2 separate regions of the Homo sapiens genome follow, and region 2 is linked to region 1. The links come from fine-mapping of genetic effects on gene expression. Tissue or cell type: nasal epithelium. Region 1 holds a variant in brackets; the other region holds the start of a gene. All regions are shown on one strand. Distances are between the middles of the regions.

Region 1 (2,692 bases):
TGTGTGATTTAAATATACTACATCTCTTAGTGGGCTGTGAACTCTGAGGGCAGGGATGGCATGATTCATGTTTGTGCATCATGTCTTATGTGTGGCTGTTCTATCAAAGACTTGGCTTGATTTAGTTACATACAAGACTCTACTCCACGGATTGCAGGACCCATCATGTAGGCTCTTTTCATTGGTTTGGGAGGCAAAGAAGGGATTTAGAAACATAGACTCCTGAAGTCAGACATGGATTTGAATGATTTTTCTCTCCACTTAGAAGATATTTGACTTTGGGTAAGTTATTAATCTCTGTAAGCCTCAGCTTTCTCATCTGTTAAATGGACATGATAAGAAGCACCTAACTTACTAGAGTTCATGAGAGGATTATATGGAATAAGGATATACCTGGCACTCAGTATTGTGCCTGCCACACACTTCGGTGCTCAGGGAAAGCTAGTAGTGGTTATTTTTTTTACTCCTATTTATAAATAATTGTTTTATTCTTTTGGATTAATCACATGGAATTGTGATTGTCTTCCTGCTCATAGATTGTGAGTCCTTGATAGAAGACATCCGGCATCTGTACCCCTAGTGCCCAGCACAGTGTCCAGAAAATTGTTGTCATCAGCGTTTGTTGAATGAATGCATGAATCTAAGGCTTTTGAACTGCAGCCCGAAGGTACATATGTAAGATGTTGCTGTTATTAGCAGGCATTGCGTTGCTGAGCCTTAAAAATGAATAAGACCAATGCTTTCCTTGGCTTTAGGGAGATTATGATCCAGTATGAAAGGCACACTGCAAGTTACTTTTTAAGAGATTGTATTTTAACACTAGTACTCAGTAAGTGCTCAATTCAAGTTAGGCTCCTACTGCCTTAGTAAGTCTTGTAATAAGTTAGCTAATAAAAATGGTGCAAATTCATTTTCTGCTTGGTTCTCAAAGAAAACAGGAGACATGTAGGTGCTAGCCTACATGTTAGGTAGTTTTGATTTGCATTTTTCTAGGAGTTCTATGGTTTCAGTCTTACATTTAAGTCTATTATCCATTTCAAGTTAATTTTTGTGAGTGGTGTGAGAGAGGGGTTTTGATATTTGTTTAATTGTTGCTTTTAGTGCATTATGAACTTTAAAATAAGCAGAATGAATTAGAATTCCACAATAGAGGATTGAGAATAATAGGAACAGAAAGGTGGAGTGGAAAAGTTGATGACTAAGGTAGGAGTAGGGAATGACTTTATGGAGATGAAGTATGAAGTGAGATTTTAAGGACAAGGACAATATTAATCTGTCTATTTAAATTCTTATCACTTATTAAAATCCTGGACAGATGCCTTCTCTACAATGAAGACACTTGTTTTGCCCCACCTCAAGTGATCTGCCCCT[T/G]TTTTGAACCTCCATGGCATTTTCTTTCTTAGGGTCTTACCATCGTCTGTTACAGCCCTGGGTGTACATGAAGTGATCAGCAAATATTGTTACATTGAATCATTGTTACATTGCATAGCTAAGCACCTGCCTCTATCCCTGCCTAATTGCAAGCTCTTTCAGGGCATGAGTTGTGTCTTCACAGTTCTCTAGTGCCTACAACACACCAGGTTCCATGCCAGGCACCCCACAAATCCTTACAGGCAATTGATAAAGAAGATATCATTGAAAATTTAAAGTCAGGAAACCAAGGCTGAAGTCACACAGGATGTTAAGTAGGTGGGCCAAGATTGGAATCTATTTCTACTGGACTCAAAACCTCTGCTAGTAACTTCGTAGCACACTACATCTGTTTGCACAGTTAGGGAATCTAGTAAAATGCTCAATAGCTATTTGGGATTGAATTTACTGAATGAACTGAATGTGTCTCATTCAGTGGCAAGCAAAACTAGAGCAAAGCCCTACAATAATTGGGCTTGGGGTAGTGATATAAAAAACCAAAAAGACAAACAAAAACAGTTGCCAGGGACACCCAATCAGGCAGCCACCAGCACGTGTCCCTTTTCACACAAATTAACTGTTTCAGCAGAAACTGGTGACCAGACTATACAACAAAAGTATTACTTGTTCACTGGGCAGAGAGTGCCAAATTGTGACCTGTTGTTTTTGCAACAGTATTTGTCACTTTGCTTAGATATCTATCTCTTAAGGAGGGAATGTCTTAAGGAATCCATTGACCAGCAGGCGGCACTAGAACTGCATGGAATAGTTTCCTCCAGTTTGCATCCAGGGTGTTTTCAGCCTCTGGAATATTTACTTAACCAGGCTAGCTGATTGATCTAGACATTTAGTTATGAAATCATAGCATTACAGTCTTGAAAGAGACATTATAGATTGCATTGTTTCAGCTCTTCATTTTAAGGATGAGAAAACTGGAGCACAGTCTGGTGACACACATGACCCAAGATTGGATGTGGTATTGGTAACAGTGCCAGAACTAGAATTCAAGTTTCCTTACTCCCAGTCCAGGGCTCTGTCTCTCTCTTTGAATGATGCTACTTAAAAAATCTTTTAAATTGTATCTTAAATTTAATTTTTCCTCCTTCACTGAAGTATAATTGATAAACAAAATTATATAAATTTAAGGTGTACAACCTGATGACTTGATATACATATGTATTGTGAAATGATTGTCATTATCAAGTTAATTAAAGCATAGTTACCTTTTTTAGAATTGGACACTGTCACTTGCAGCAACACGGATGGAACTGGAGATCACTAT
Region 2 (2,692 bases), 26 kb before region 1:
CTTCAAGTTCAAGTAAACCTAGAACAATAAAATAAGATCCAGAATCAAAATCCCGTTTCTGCTTTTGGGAAGGCTTCATTCACACTATTTCAGGCAGATCCCTAAATAATTTGAATTTATAGCGGTAATTTCAACCTGGACTTTCAGAGCACTTTAATATTTGAATATTGTATCAGAAAGAGAAAGAGCGATCCTGAGAAATTCCAAGCCAGGGAATCATCTTCAGACTATCCTGTTGTCAGCTTTTGATTGTCCACCCAATGTGGATTATCTATGCCCTTTTCTTCTGTCTTTCTTCCAGCTCTCCACCGTATTTCAGAGTAGAAAATTAAGAGAAGAGTGCAGAAATTAAAATTTTATATATGTCTACACACCTTCCTTTAAAGTTGAGCGAAGAGGACAGGTAAAAGCCAAAAGGTGAAGGAAGACTTGAGAGTATCTTAAAGTGGATAGAGGCCATGTCAGCAAAACAGTTGGTAGAAAATAGAACAATGAAAAGGGAATATGAATGATTCCTCAACATTACAGTCCATAAAGGATTTAGGAACTCTTATAGAATATAATTTGTAAGTCAGCAATTCTAAGATTAAATAGTACTTCTTCCTAGTCAAAAGATGGCATTGTAACATTCAGATACACAAATGCAGAAAACAGAGACTGTATATTACCTGCCTCAACTCAGATATAGTAAGATATTCGGATATTGAAGTATTGAAAGCTTCTGAGAGGTCCTTTCTAAACCAAACGGAATCCAGAAAACTGTGAATGATATTGGTTTTGTTAAACCCAAATGCATCATTGGAATCTTGGCTTTTTATAAAACATTAGCCAGCAGTAGATCAATGTTATAAGAATACATGGAATGGCTTTGCTGGTGGGATAAGTGTAGTCGTTCATCTAGCTGACTTCTTTATGTACTTCTCAACTCCAGTACCTTAAATGCTGTGACTGTATGAAGATGGCCCATATTAGGTAGAACCAATGTAAAAGAGAACAGAAGGCTGGCAAACTTTTGAGATAGCAGTTTTTAGGAAGATGAACCCTATCAGAGCCACACATGATCATCCTTGATGTGCAGAAGTATAGAGTTCAGAGCCCAAGGAGAAGGGTCATGCTTCAGTTCAAGTGATGGCTCCAACCATAAGAAGATGGGATAGAGTTAGTGATAGTTTATTTATCCCTGCAAAATACTGATACCTTCTGGCACATGGAACCTCCCCCCATATCCCAACATCTGAAATAGCTATAAAAATGGAGAATCATAAAGAAGACCACGATCCCACAGAATGGGACTTACCCACTTCACCAGAGGAAGAAGTCGACAGTGCTTGCTGACACCACAGGCAAGTGTACTGGGTAACTGGGAGCTGGGCCTTTTATAGGGGTTTTAATTGTGCCCTGGAAAGCAACTTGGGAAGGAGACACCCACTCTGTGGGATGGCCTGATTCATTCCTAACCAAGCCCAGCTCCACCTCTGTCTCCACAAATGGCTTGTTTATCTCACTATTTGCTCACGTAGCTATTTGGCACGAGGTTCACAGACCTTGCCTCCTGACAGTCAGGGTACCAGCCCCACCTAACATGGGAGGGTAGAATATTTGGCAGAATCTCCAATTTTCTTAAATTGTTAAAAGTAAATTAAATAATAAAACAAAGGTATTAAATGTTCACAATCTTAATTGATTATTACTTCATTACAAAGGAGTAAACTCTAAGCCATTTGCTTTATAAAAGATACAATCTCTAGTTTGGGATTAAGCAGAAACTTTGAAATAAAGTGATGAAAACCAATTAATTTCTCCATGGGATGTGACAGTCCATGGTGAGCTGCTCATAAGCCCTGCCAGAAGCAGTTGCTTCAATTCTAGGGCAATGAGAGAGCTGTAAAGAATTGGTTAGTTTCTTCTCTAAAAATGCAGGTGGGAAAAATTTTTACATTTGTCTCCCGGGTCTTATGATGGTTTTCCTACAGATTGGGGACTGCCTCCTCAGTAAAGTTTGGAAGGGTACCTTGGAAATATATTTTTATTAAACCGTTCATAAGAAAACTTGAAATCTGTGAAATTTCATTCTTAGAGACATTAAACCTAAATGAAGTTTGTTCATTAGTTTTCTCATTAGCATATTGATGCCCCTGGGGAAAAAGAGCTGGTGTAATGTATTATTGTAGATATAATCATCCTGCTCAGCCTAAGTTACTAATGATTATGACACCTAAACACTTGAGTCTGCTTCTCCTGGAAGTACATTGAGGTAATTGGTCATTCTAGCCCATTATATCCATCAGGGCTTTCTCAATCTGGTTGATCATTTGCAAATTTCAGTGCTGTTTTATTGTAAGGAATTGGATTTTATCCATGGTTGTCAGTGACTTCCTTCCTTACATTTCAGACTATATGAAACTTTGGTTCATAATTTATGAAGACTATTAAATGATTCAATGGCTTCTCTGCACTTTTGTCTCCTCCTTTGTCCAACAGAGGCAAGTGTTGGTTTTCTGAATTTTGAGGCAACTGAACGTCCTTCAATGGCATGAGTGAAAATTTGGAATCTAAATCTTGATGGCTATTTCTTTATGTGCAGATTGGTCTAAATGATAATGGAGTTGAACTCTATTTGCCCCCTCACTTGCTGCCATCCTAGATGTGGGGTACAGAGGAAGGTAGAAGTGACAGGGAATGGGAAGACAAT

Evidence for each region. PIP is the estimated chance that this variant, and not a neighbour inherited with it, causes the effect. A credible set is the group of variants that fine-mapping cannot tell apart.
Region 2: it holds the start of TCHH, and the variant in region 1 is the best candidate, but not a certain one, in a credible set for the expression of TCHH in nasal epithelium (TOPMed, PIP 0.86).

Annotation. Positions count from the first base shown.
Region 1 is chr1:152,140,007-152,142,698 of GRCh38, forward strand. No RefSeq gene overlaps it. Among named protein-coding and RNA genes, the nearest start is that of RPTN, 18 kb to the right of the region's middle. The variant T/G (reference allele first, on the strand shown) is at 1,372.
Region 2 is chr1:152,114,094-152,116,785 of GRCh38, forward strand. TCHH (trichohyalin) reads right to left here and starts at 1,351. Exons shown (of 3, transcript NM_007113.4): 1 at 1,298-1,351; 2 at 1-18.